Homo sapiens: one gene and its partner. The protein of the gene in region 2 interacts with the protein of the main gene of each other region in a pairwise test. Each region holds a gene or a part of one and is shown on either strand. Other genes may lie near its edges.

Region 1 (7,025 bases), on a different chromosome or scaffold from region 2:
AGTGCATTGAGGCCGGCGCGGTGGCTCACGCCTGTAATCCCAGCACTTTGGCAGGCTGAGGCGGGCGGATCATGAGGTCAGGAGTTCGAGACCAGTGTGGCCAACGTGGGAGAAATCCCATCTCTACTAAAAATACAAAAATTAGCCAGGTATGGTGGCACATGCCTGTAATCCCAGCTACTCAGGAGGCTGAGGCAGGAGAATCACTTGAACTCGGGAGGCGGAGGTTGCAGTGAGCCAAGATCGTGCCACTGCACTCCAGTCTGGGCAACAGAGCAAGACTCCATCTCAGAAACAAGACAAAAACGCACTGAGAAGAACTGTTGACTTCGCACAGGCTGCGCCTTCTCTCCCTGTCCCTAATAACTGGTTTTCATGACCTAGCCACATGTCCCCCTCACCTGCCCTGCCTGCCTGGATTGGGTGGCCCCTTGTTTGTGAGTGGCTGGCCATGCCGTTCCCACAATGACCACTCACCTCCTCAGCACAGGAGGCTTCAGAGCACCCGCAGTCTCTGTGCCCTCGTGTTTGGGACGGGAATCTTTGCGGACCGGGTGGGCTGGGCTCAGGCCTCACTGCTGCCTGTCAGTTCTTTCCCCATGGGGGTGCAGGCCCTGGCCTTCCCCTCTGGCGGGAACCACTGACCCCTCATTAACACATCACAGAAGTCTCTTCTCATGCGCCCCCAGCTGAGGACACAGGCGGGCACGCCCGCTAGAACTCCAAGGTCAGGGTTGACAAGACTGGGAGGCAGCACACGGGCCGGGGGCTGTGCAGAGGCCCTTCTGGGTTCCCAGGGGGGTCTCACGGTGGCAGCTGGGGAACCAAGTGCCCCTGGTACTCGCCGCAGTCAGGAGGCCATGCTTGCTACCACCCAGTCCTGCCTCCTGCGCAGCGGTTTCCACTGAAGTCACCCCTTTTATTAGAGACCTCTGAAAACGTATCTCCCGTGTCTCTGTTCCAAAGCACGTCTTTGTCTGCACTCCTGGGGTCCCAGAGGGACTAGTGACACAGTCTGAGTGTGCTGTCCCTGTCACAGCAGCAGGGGCTCAGCAGAGAGGACCCTCCCCTCCTGAATCTGCCTCGATCCGGAAAAGGCTCGCCTGGCTCCTCCCATCCCAGCTCCCAGCCCTCCTCACACCAGCAGCCCCAGACCTTCTGGGCAGCAAGCCAGAGACACATTCTCAGGTGTCCTGGGATTCAGACTCAACCCGGAGGGTCACGGAGTGGGGGCTTCCGTACAGCAGCCTCAGGCGGCACTCCCAGCCATGACTCCTGGGAACAAGCCTGGGGGTAGGGACCCCCGGGCACCTTTTCTGGGCCTGACCAGTTTTCTGTTCATGCTGAAGCTGCTGCAGCCCCTCTGGCTCAGTCCTGCCCTCTGCTTCGCATCTCTCTCCGGGCCTCCTCCACTGCTCCCGTTTCTCTTTTCAGAACTTAACAGCATCAGAACTTCCATGAAAAAAGGCCGTTGACCTCTCAGTCTGCACAGCAGGGTTCTAGTGGCTGACGGTGGTGCTCAGAGCCACCTGCCCTCTGGACCTTTGTTCTGGGCTGTGAAATGCTCAAGGACAGGGACTGGGTCAGTCACCAACTACCTGGGAGTGTTCTGGGTACTGCTGGGTATAGGGCTGCAAAGAAAACAGCACAAGTGAAAACCAGCCCTCACTACCAGGGCCTGTGTTCTAACTGAAGAGAGAAAATAAAAATCCCTAAAAACAAAGTCAAAACAAGCTCACAGAAGTCATTCAACAGGGAAGTGGACCGTGGCTGCCTGGCCATGGACATCAGTGATGGGGTCAGAACTGGGAGGATGACAGAGCTGGGTCCTCGGGCCTCTGGGGACGCACACAAAGCAGAAGCGACGGGTTGGGGGCTTCGGGGGTACACTGGGGTGTGAACCCAGGGCAGGACCGGCAGAAGGGACGTAAGAGCCTCCTTCTCAAGCAAGGCGGGGTTCTGTCGACAGAGACACCTGCCATCCACTGCTGGGACTCTGAGGCAGCCTCACAGTGCCGAGACCAGGTCCCAGCTCCAAAGCACCAGGAGGACCCACCTTCTCACCTGCCCGCCTGCCCCTCCCCCGCCTCCCGCTCACTGAGGGAAGCCACGTTTCACTGGGCTCGGGAGATCCGCACACGAGAGAGTGAACTGAGTGGGCACCGGGGAGAGGCCCTGGAGCACAGGCGGGTGTCTAGGTCGCCCAACGGATGCCTCCAGCAGACCCCGGGCTGCCCACTTACTTCCTTTCTGGGTAAGGCTCAAAGGACTCGTCCGAAGACTGGGCATTTTGCTTCTTGTCATTTTCATCTTCACTCAAGACGTCTCTAGGAATTAAGAGAGAATCTTCAGCAAAGCCCTGGGCCTGGGCAGTGACAGACCCAACACGACCTCCTGCCTAAAGATACCAAATGGACCCCCATGTCCCACATTTGAGTTCTTCTGAAAATGTCTTAAATCTAAAATCCCCAAATTTCCAATCCCGTTTCCGAACACAAAGGGCCAGCCAGGCTCACAAGCCAGCAATCCCCACAAGCCATGTGCTCTGGGCACCAGGACACTGGACTTGGAAACAGCCCTTTCCACAGCGGCCCAGAAGGGGTGGAGGCGCTCAAAGGTAGCTTCCTGCTAAGCAGACTTTGAGAAATCGACCACCTCACCCCATAACTGCGAACCCTATGCAACTGATGGGTTTGCCATGAGTCACTTCTAAGTTCACAAAAGTGGCTGGGTGCAGAGGCTAACTCCTGTAATCCCAGCACTTTGGGAGGGTGACGTAGGTGGATCGCATGAGGTCAGGAGTTCAAGACCAGCCTGGCCAATACCGTGAAACCCCGTCTCTACTAAAAATACAAAAATTGGCCGGGTGCGGTGGCTAACACCTGTAATCCCAGCACTTTGGGAGGCAGAGGCGGGCGGATCACGAGGTCAGGAGATCAAGACCATCCCGGCTAACAAAGTGAAACCCCGTCTCTGCTAAAAATACAAAAAATTAGCCGGGCGTGGTGGCGGGTGCCTGTAGTCCCAGCGACTCAGAGGCTGAGGCCGGAGAATGGCGTGAACCCGGGAGGCAGAGCTTGCAGTGAGCCGAGATTGTGCCACTGCACTCCAGCCTGGGCAACACAGCGAGACTCCGTCTCAAATAAAAAAAAAATAAATAAATACAAAACTTAGCTGGGTGTGGTGGCGGGCGCCTGTAATCCCAGCTACTCGGGAGGCTGAGGCGGGAGAATCACTTGAACGCGGGAGGTGGAGTTTGCAGTGAGCTGAGGTCACACCACTGCACTCCAGCCTGGGCAACAGAGTAAGGCTCGGTCTAAAAAAAAAAGTTCACAAAAGGAAAAAAAAAAAAAAAAAAAGATTTGTGGCCTTTATGCTATAACCTCAGCTGCGGTTTTGTGTCCTGGTGGTCCTGAGGACAGTCTTAGCCACCCCAGGTGCCTCCTGGCACCTGCCCGATTTCATCACTGCACATCCCACTGGGATTGGCCCCCAAACTGGGGTGTCCTCATTTGGATGAGGTGCATCTGTGTTGCAGCCAAGGTTTACAGGAGAGGGTGGAAACGGTGCAAACCCCAGCCTGGCACAGCTGCCCTGAATGGCGCTTGGCTCAGAGGCAGGGGTGGCCCAGGGAGTTTGCAGACACTGATGAGGTCCCTTCTGAGGCCCGTCCTCCTGCAACACCTCCTCGCAGAGCCTCGGCTTCAAGCCACAACAGTGTCATAGTCAAGGGCTAAAGTCGGGGTTTCTCTACTCCAGAAACATCTGGAGCGAACACAAAACTATGGCCCTAAAACAGTAGCAGAAGCAAAGGACCCAGCCAGAGTGGTTTCAACAAACTCATTTCTAGGCTGCTCTGGGTCAGAAACCCTATCAGGCTCCCTCTGGAGCTGCCTCAGGTCTGGGAGTGCTCTCTGGCACCCAGGAAACCATCAATCAGAGACAAGAAGCCTCGGAAGCTCCCCAGCCCCTCCTCTCCCGCCACCTCGAGAGGAGGCGTGTCCCAACCAGGGCACGGACAGCCGGCCCCTGTGATGGCTTAGTTTGGTACCAGCGCATGGGCAGCCGACCCTACGATGGCTGTTTGGTTTTTGAAGGAGAAATTTTAGGCTGTTTAAACCCACTCTTCTCTCACCCCTCAGAAAGGTCACTGATGGTTTTTGAAGGAGAAATTTTAGGCTGTTTAAACCCACTCTTCTCTCACCCCTCAGAAAGGTCACTGAACTCGTCTTTTACCCGATCATCCGAGGTTGAAGATGGAAGCTGCTTCTCACCCAACTGCCCTGAGAAACAAAGAACAAGGCTCCTGTTACCAACACGGAGCACAGAAAGGTCTCACCTGCAAGGAGGCATGATTCTACTATTGATGACTAGAAGGGAGACTGGGGTCCCTGACCCTCAAGTTCTCCCCACCATGGCCCCATCCCCACCAAGGGTGCTATGCAGCCTCTGATCCTGCCCTGCCAGCCCAACGTCCAGAAGCACACAGGCAGCAACAAGCATCAGAACCCTCAGGAACAGCAGAACCAGAAAGCCCAGTCCTTCCACTGACTCCGATCCAGTCCTTCTAGGACAGCCTGGACTTGGTGGATGTTCTGAGACATTTAAAAAATTACTAGGCCAGGCACGGTGGCTCATGTCTGTAATCCCAGCACTTTGGGAGGCCGATGCAGGTGGATCACGAGGTCAGGAGATCGAGACCAGCCTGGCCAACGTGGTGAAACCCCATCTCTATTAAAAATACAAAAATTAGCCGGGCATGGTGGCACACACCTGTAATCCCAGCTACCTGGGAGGCTGAGGCAGAAGAATCGCTTGAACCCGGGAGGCAGACATTGCAGTGAGCCGAGATCGCGCACTGCACTCCAGCCTGGGCAAAAGAGCAAGACTCCGACTCAAAAAAATAAAATAATTAAAAATTACTATTCTCAGTCCGGGTGCAGTGGCTCACGCCTGTAATCCCAGCACTTTGGGAGGCTGACGCGGGTGGATCACAAGGTCAGGAGATCAAGACCAACCTGGCTAACATGGTTAAACCCCGTCTCTACAAAAAATACAAAAAATTGAGCTGGGCGTGGTAACTCATGCCTGCAATTCCAGCACTTTGGAGGCCGGGGTGGGCGGATCACCTGAAGTCGGGAGGTCGAGACCAGCCTTACCAACATGGAGAAACCCCATTTCTACTAAAAAATACAAAAATAGCCAGGCATAGTGGTGCATGCCTGTAATCCCAGCTACTCGGGAGGCTGAGGCAGGAGAATCGCTTGAACCTGGGAGGCAGAGGTTGTGGTGAGCTGATATCGTGCCACTGCACTCCAGCCTGGGTAACAAAGAGTGAAACTCCTTCTCAAAACAAATACAAATACAAATACAAAAAAATTAGCAGGGTGTGGTGGCACAAGCCTGTAATCCCAGCTACTCGGGAGGCTGAGACAGGAGAATCACTTGAACCCAGGAGGCAGAGGCTGCAGTGAGCCGAGATTGTGCCACTGCACTCGAGCCTGGGCGACAGAGTGAGACTCCATCAATAAATAAATAATACTGTTCTCTCGGCCAGGCCTGGTGGCGACAGAGCGAGACTCCATAAATAAATAAATAAATATTACTGTTCTCTCGGCCAGGCCTGAAGGTTCATGCTTATAATCTCAGCCTTTTGGGAGGCCAAGGCAGAAGGATCACTTGAAGACAGAAATTCAAGACCAGCCTGGGCAAAAGAGTGAGACCCTGTCTCTACTTAAAATAAGTTTTCTTTGTTTTGTTTTTTTCTTTTTTAGACAGAATCTTGCTCTGTCGGTCAGGCCAGAGCGTAGTGGTAGAATCTCAGCTCACTGCAATCTCCGCCTCCCAGGGTCAAGCGATTCTCCTGCCTCAGCCTCCCAAGTAGCTGGGCCTACAGGCAACCACAGCCACATCCAGCTAATTTTTTGTATTTTTAGTAGAGATGGGGTTTCACCGTGTTAGTCAGGATGGTCTCGATCTCCTGACCCCGTGATCCGCCTACCTCAGCATCCCAGAGTGCTGGGATTACAGGCGTGAACCACTGCACTTGGCCTAAAATAAGTTTTAAAAAGTATTGTTCTTGGCTGGGCGCGGTGGTTCACACCTGTAATCCCAGCATTCTGGGAGGCTGATGCAGGTGGATCACGAGGTCAGGAGTTCAAGACCAAGCCTGGCCAACATGGTGAAACCCCATCTCTACTAAAAATACAAAAATTAGGTGGGCGTAGTGGCGCGTGCCCATCATCCCAGCTACTCGGGAGGCTGAGGCAGGTGGATCACGAGGTCAGGAGTTCGAGACCAAGCCTGGCCAACATGGTGAAACCCCATCTCTACTAAAAATACAAAAATTAGGTGGGCGTGGTGGCACGTGCCCGTCATCCCAGCTACTCGGGAGGCTGAGGCAGGTGGATCACGAGGTCAGGAGTTCGAGACCAAGCCTGGCCCACATGGTGAAACCCCATCTCTACTAAAAATACAAAAATTAGGTGGGCGTGGTGGCATGTGCCTGTCATCCCAGCTACTCGGGAGGCTGAGGTAGCGGTGAGCCAAGATGGCACCACCGCACTCCAGCCTGGGCTACAAAACGAGACTCTGTCTCAAAAATAAATAAACACATAGATAGATAGATAAGTAGGTAAATAAATAGATAAATAGGTAGATAAGTAGATACATAGATATACAGATAGGTAGGTAGATAGAGAGAGACAAAGAAGTAGGAAGATAGATAGGTAGGTAGGTAGATAGATACACAGATAGATAGAATTGTTCTCAACACACTGCATACAAGTTTACAGAGCCAAGCAGCTCTAAGATGTGACACTCACAATCCCGTTCCTACCTGAGGCCCCCGAGCCGCACTGTCTCATCTGTGCACCCGTATCTAGCTAAACTATCTGGGTAGCTGTGTTTCTGTTTGGGACAGAGTCTTGCTCTGTCACCCAGGCTGGAGTACGGTTGTGCGATGTCGGCTCACTGCAACTTCCGCCTCCCAGGCTGAAGTGATTCTCGTGCCTCAGCCTCCAGAG
Region 2 (7,025 bases):
GTGTCATGTGAACCTGCAGGCTGGCCCTCTTGCCACAGTTAAAACCACAGTCCAGATGTCAGATTTTACATAGATGTCTGTGCTGACGCAGTCCCGTTATGAAAAGATCTATTTTGTCATATGCACTGCTGTGGTGAATATAAGTGGTCTTGATGATTTCAGCCCTTGTCACATTGACTTTTCGCTGTCATGTATTCACTTGATTCGCTGGCAGGTCCCAGTGGGAATTCTTTTCATGGCATCTTTGTGTTTTGGTGACACCCAGGTGGATCCATAAAGAACCCAGCCAACCCGCAGAGGGAGGGGAGGGGCTGAGCTGTGAGGAGAGCGGGGCCCAAGAACCATGTCTACGCGGGAGTCCTTTAACCCGGAAAGTTACGAATTGGACAAAAGCTTCCGGCTAACCAGATTCACTGAACTGAAGGGCACAGGCTGCAAAGTGCCCCAAGATGTCCTGCAAAAATTGCTGGAATCTTTACAGGAGAACCACTTCCAAGAAGATGAGCAGTTTCTGGGAGCCGTTATGCCAAGGCTTGGTAGGTAACCCAGTGTTTCTTTGATGGTCTGCGATCCAATCAGTGAGTCAAAAACTGGATTTCTCGCCTCCCATGTTGCCTATTTATTTTTTATTATTACTTTTTTTGCTTTTATAGATTTGAGGAATACACATGCAGTTTTGTTACATGAATATATTACATAATGGTGAAGACTAGGCTTTTAGTGTAGCCATCACCCAAATAGTGTACATCGTACCCCCTTTATTTTTTTTTAATTTTTGTGGGAAGGATTAGAAGAGCAATCAATGTTATGATTGCTATGTTATGTTCTTGTAACTTATGTAGAGAAAGTACTTGAAACGCATCAAGAGGGGTACTCTTGACAGTTTTTAAATCATGGAGTATGCAATTGAGATTGTTATTACAGTAAAAACTTTTTAATTTTTATTTTCAATTTAATTGAATTGAATTTTCTGTTAGCTGAAGATTAAGCAGAAATACTTTATTCCCTTTTCCTAAAAGGACTCCTAAAATGCTCACATTCCCTTCATTGCCCTAGGAAAGGCGGTTCCAGCCTTAGGGTTCTTGTGCTGTACTTGGATGGCAGTGACTGTGTCAGGAGGGCATTGGGGTTCTCTGCAGGGTGCATCGGGCGAAAAGCGTGTTACGGTGAGGAGGTGGGACTGCTCCAGACCCAGGACTGGATGGATCTGTTCTTGACCCCAGGATGTCATCTGGAACCAGGGCAATGTCTTTTTCTTTACTACATTCCTGATGTCATGAGTGATTTCACTTTTCCCAAACACAGAGCTTAGAAACAAATTCTGGGCTCCTGGGATATTGTTTATTCATGTTTCTTGTGCAGTTTATTAAGTACACAGTACAAGACTGTGATCACTTTTCTTGTGTTCGACGCATAGTTTCGGAGGTTTGGATGTTCGATAATTACTGTGTGACTTGATCAGTTTTCTTCCTTTTTTTTTGAAATGGATTCTCACTCTGTCACCCAGGCTGGAGTGCAGTGGCGTGATCTTGGCTCACTGCAACCTCTGCCTCCTGGGTTCATGCGATTCTTCTGCCTCAGCCTCTTGAGTAGCTGGGATTATAGGCCCCTGCCACATGCCCGGCTAATTTTTGTATTTTTAGTAGAGATGGGAGTTTTACCATGTTGGCCAGGCTGTTCTCGAACTCCTGACCTCAGGTGATCTGCCTGCCTCAGCCTCCCAAAGTGCTGGGATTACAGGTGTAAGCCACCACACCCAGCCAAGGTTTTCATTTCATTTGTTTTTGCCCATTATTTGGTAAGGTTCATTGGTTATGAGCCTGGGGTCTCCTTTACTCCCAGATAGAGAAAGCAGATAAAAGCAGACTTGCTTTTGTTGGAAAGGAAGAAATGTTACACCCCAGTCGCTGGTGACCTGCAGGACTTTGAGGAGCTCAGTTTGAAAACAGTTCCTGCCGTCCAGCTGATGGCCAAGCTGTGGAGAAATACCATGTGAGCGAGCTGGGTTTGATGTTGGCTTATTTGTCGAGAAATGAGAATATACTGAGGAAGCTGTTAGATAACTGTCAAGAAAAAAAGCTATTAATACTTAATGCTCAAAAACCAATGAAATTAAAACATTACGGCATAAAGTAAGAATTACTATTTATAACTTCCTCTGGCACAGTTACTTACTAGTCACTCATATTATGTCATGAATGTCACCCAGCCCTCCTGAGCCTCAGCTTCCTAATCTATAAAATAATAATTACTGTTTGGGGTTGGGTGCGGTGGCTCACACCTGTAATCCCAGCACTTTGGGAGGTCAAGATGGGCAGATCACTCAAGGTCAGGAGTTCAAGACCAGCCTGGGCAAAATGGTGAAACCCATCTCTACTAAAAATACAAAAGTTACCTGGGCTTGCTGGTGTACACCTGTAGTTTCAGCTACTCGGGAGGCTGAGGTGGGAGGATCCCTTGAGCCCGGGAGGCAGAGGCTACAGTGAGCTGAGGTCACACCACTGTACTGCGGCCTGGGAGACAGAGTGAGACCCTGCCTCAAAAAAAAAAAAAAGATTACTGTTTTGCATTGTTGTACCAAAAATGTGTGTAGGTGTGCCATGTATGTCTGTACTTACATATATAATACATGTATGTGTATACCCTCTGTACACAAGTATATATGGTATATATGTATGGGTGTTTTTGACCTTTTTTTTGTTGTTGTTGAGATGAAGTCTCACTGTGTCGCCCAGGCTGGAGTGCAGTGGCACAATCTCAGCTCACTGCAACCTCCGCTTCCCAGGTTCAAGCAGTGATCTCCTGCCTCTGCCTCCCAAGTAGCTGGGACTACAGGCGCATGCCACCACACCCAGCTAAATTTTTTTGTGTTTTTAGTAGAGACGGGGTTTCAAGGTGTTGGCCAGGCTGGTCTCAAGCTCCTGAGCTCAGGTTATCCACCCACCTCAGCCTCCCAAAGTGCTGGGATTACAGGCGTGAGCCACCGCACCCGGCTGTATGTTTATTTTTTTAACTTTTTTTTTTTTTGAGACGGAGTCTCGCTCTGTCGCCCAGGCTGGAGTGCAGTGGCGCGATCTCCGCTCATTGCAAGCTCCGCCTCCCAGGTTCACGCCATCCTCCTGCCTCAGCCTCCCGAGTAGCTGGGACTACAGGCGCCCGCCACCATGCCTGGCTAATTTTTTGTATTTTTAGTAGAGACGGGGTTTCACAGTGGTCTCGATCTCCTGACCTCGTGATCCGCCTGCCTCGGCCTCCCAAAGTGCTGGGATTACAGGCGTGAGACACCGCGCCCCGCCATCTTTTTTTTTTTTTTTTCCTTGAGATAGAGTCTCACTCCATCACCCAGGCTTGAGTACAGTGGTGCAATCTCAGCTCACTGCAACCTCTGCCTCCCGGGTTCAAGGCCCTCCCAGGCCTGATTCTCATGCCTCAGCCTCCCTCCAAGTAGCTGGAATGACAGACGTGCACCACCACACCCAGCTAATTTTTTTGTATTTTTAATAGAGTTAGGGTTTCACTATGTTGGTCAGGCTGGTCTGGAACTCCTGACTCTAAGTGATCTGCCCACCTCGGCCTCCCAAAGTGCTGGGATTAAAGGCATGAGCCCCCGCGCCCGGCCTGTTTATGTTTTTAACTTTTTTCTAATTGAATGTCATGTTTTCTGGCTTCAAAAATGGTGTTAATTGAAGGGTTAACCAAAACAGCTTTTAAATGTACACACGATTACTAAATGTATCCTAATTAAAGAAATGGTAAAAGAAGTGTGCCTTAGAACCAGAGACATTTGTTGCCTGGTGCCTAGGAGCTATCAAGTAATGATTGCTGCTGCTGGCGGGGGCGGTGCAGGGGTTGGGGGTGGGTAGTGGTGTGATAACTTAGGTTGTCTTTCTGATGGAGGATGTCAGTATTGCTGAAAACCTTCCAGCAAGTTTGCCCATTGCCTCCTGGTCATTAAACCTAAACTGTTCTGTCTAGTATTTAAGGCTTCCCCGACCCTGTGGCATTTTCCTCTGTTCCCAGTTACCATCCCTCTGGACCGTCCCTCTGTCTTTCCATTTCAAACGCTAGTTTTTCAAGGCCTGTGGGCATCTCAGGCTCACCCCTTCTCTCTTCCTTCCTTGAAATGTGATTGGTGATTTCTAAACCAATCACTGTAGACCAGTGCTGTCCAAAAATACAATGCAAGCCACATGCGTAATTTTCAAATTCAAAGTAATATTTTTAAAAACCCGATAACAAAAATCAGGTGGAATTAATTATAATCTATTTTATTTAACACAATATATAAAAATGTCTTTTCAGTATGTATATATACGACATTATTAATGAGATGTTGGTTTTTGGTACTAGGTGTTTAAAATCAGTTGTCTGTTTTGTACTTACAGCACCTGTTTGTCAGATGCGCAGCCACCCCCTGTGTCTAGTGTCAACCACATTGGACAGCACCAGACCCTATTCTAGTAGACTGTGGTGGCACAGGTGTGAAAGAGAAACCGTGGATAACGGAGCTGCTTTTCAGCCCTAGGGGCGTGCTCAAGAATCCCCCGTTACTCTGATCAAAGGACTTGCTAAGTTTAGAAATAAAGCGCTTTACAAATCAAATGTATGTAATTCAAATTTAAGATTATTCAAATTAAGAACATTTAAAGCTAACATTCAGCAACAATTTTAGTTTCTCTTTCAGTAGTCCTCCAGTTTAAATGGAAGCCTGAAAGAAAACTGCCTCTTACTGTTTTCCAAAGTGAATAATAATATACTCAGAATAACCAGTTGTCAGAATTATCCATTTAGGGAGAATCCATTGAGTTAAAGAGTGGTATTTCTATTTAGGTGCTAAAGAGTGTGATGAAACAAATTTCTGAGAGGTTGTGCCCATGGGCTGTTTACGTGAATTATCTCACACGTTCTCCTCTGACAGATGAAAACTGATCCAGTGCCTGACATTGTTGAAACTTGCCATTCTGAACTTCACTTCTCCATTCCCTAAGCGAGGTCTTCCAGCAAGAGTTTCTGCTTTGTTATCTAGTGTGATAAAAATCAGCCTGTCTTCACAGACTATGGCTTTTTATTGAGTGAGATTTCATTTTTGCAGCAGGAAAGATCTGGTGCCTCCATGACCCGCCTCTGTGAGGTCTGCTGCTGTCATGAGACCGAGTGAGGCAGTGCTTCACGGCCCTTTCACTTACGCAGAATATTAAAGGTCGTTTTAGTGCGATTCAGATATGATTTAAACTTGTTTGAAATTCTGAATTTATAGGGTAGATTCAGGCACATAATTTGCTTCCTTTTGTCCTAATTCTGGCTTTTTCCCTGCTTTTGGCTATTGGGCTGCAAAGTAGAAGTACAGCATCCCCCTCTGTATCTGCAGAATCCTCGTGGGGGATTCAACCAACCACAGACTGAAAATATGCAGGGAAAGAAGTGGATGGTTGCATCTCAACATGCACAGACTTTTTTTTGTCTTGTCATTATTCCCTAAACAGTACAGCATAACAAATATTTACATCGCATTCACATCGTATTGGGTGTCATAGGTGATCTAGAGATGATTTAAGGTATGTGAGAAGATGTGTGTAGGTTATATGCAAATATTGGGACATTTCAAATCAGGGATTTGAGCATCTGTGGATGTTGGTGTCTGTGGGAGTCCTGGAACCAGTCCCCCACAGATACCAAGGAACAGCTGTCCTCATAAGAGGACAGAAGAGTGTCCTTCTGAGGGGTGTAGGGCTGCTCACTGTGTTCAGCTTTCTTGGTGGGAATGCTAGTCTGAGTTTGTAAAATGCCTGCATTACAAGTAATTTTTAAAGGAGTACAGCCTTATCTCCAAGACAAGGAGTAGCGTATCTTGACTACTACTGGTGGTCTTGGGACTCCTCTGACATAGATGCCAGAGTGTTTATATCCAGGCTTGATTGGAAATTTCCATTGAATTGTAGATTGGGATTTGTCCTTTCATTTCATCTGTGTGTGTGTCATTTTCACTTTTGACTAAAATGTATAAGTAATAATAGCATTTTTCAATGTAAAAATATTTTACATGGTTTCTGATGGGACAATACGATAATGTCTGTAAAGATGTACGCACAATAACTATACTTAAGATAACCCAAGTTCCATTTATAGGATTCTCATCTTCAAAGAAATTGTATACGGTACCAGTCACACGCTACAGTAATACAGTAAAATAATAAAAGTCATACAGTGAAAAAGATTTTTATTCAAGGCATCATTAAGGATTAAAACTATGCCATATTGGAGTTGAGTCTTGATGAGTAACATTTTCATTGGTATTTTCCATCCTAAGCTGGATATGTTTCACGTTTATTTCAGTTACGCTTCTTGATAGGAAACACATGGCTTCATTGGCAGCCTGCAGTTTCCATAAGTATCTTATGAGCTCTTCCTGTTCAGAGCACTGGTGATATAAAATGAAATGGCTTTCCCGTTTTATTTTTGGATGCTAATGACTTCCATCTCCACAGGCATTGGAATGGATACTTGTGTCATTCCTTTGAGGCACGGTGGGCTTTCCTTGGTTCAAACCACAGATTACATTTACCCGATCGTAGACGACCCTTACATGATGGTAAGCGTGAGCCGATGTGTTTTTGTGACTGGAAGGGCTTATTTGTTTGGTTTGGGTTGTGGCTGGGGTTTTGTATGTATCTGTGGGGTTTTGGTTTTATTTCTGTTATATCCCGACTATACTGCCCCACCCTGCCCAGACTCCTGCAGTTGCTGAAGTCAGGCCTGTCCCCTGCCCACACTTGGCACTGGGCATAAAGCAATTAGGGAGGAAGCAGGGAAGGCCCTCTGCTGCTGTTGCAACTGAGTACATGCTGTGAGTAAGAACACCTCTTGTTTAGTAGCATGTCAATGGCCTGTTTTTGTCATTTTCTTCTTTCTTGCACCTTCTCTTCTTTGACATTGGTAACCTCCATCACCCCTGTGTTTTAGGCTGGAGATGTTACTGTCCTCTGTAATAGGACTGATCCTAAATGTTTCCTTCAAGAGATTAAGGA

The links. Proteins that work in one complex are often made in the same cells at the same time.
Region 1: the proteins of SEPHS1 (region 2) and ZNF276 interact in binary tests that used the Homo sapiens proteins (3 or more experiments, as listed by UniProt).

The regions. Positions count from the first base shown.
Region 1 is NC_000016.10:89,724,537-89,731,561, reverse strand, and holds part of ZNF276 (zinc finger protein 276), read right to left. Parts: intron 4,284-7,025; coding exon 4,205-4,283; exon of another isoform or gene 4,136-4,204; intron 2,328-4,135; coding exon 2,244-2,327; intron 1,632-2,243; coding exon of another isoform or gene 1,595-1,631; exon of another isoform or gene 899-1,594; intron 1-898. UniProt on the Homo sapiens protein: May be involved in transcriptional regulation.
Region 2 is NC_000010.11:13,338,269-13,345,293, reverse strand, and holds part of SEPHS1 (selenide, water dikinase 1), read left to right. Parts: intron 1-265; 5' UTR 266-343; coding exon 344-536; intron 537-4,385; exon of another isoform or gene 4,386-4,603; intron 4,604-6,485; coding exon 6,486-6,589; intron 6,590-7,025. UniProt on the Homo sapiens protein: Synthesizes selenophosphate from selenide and ATP.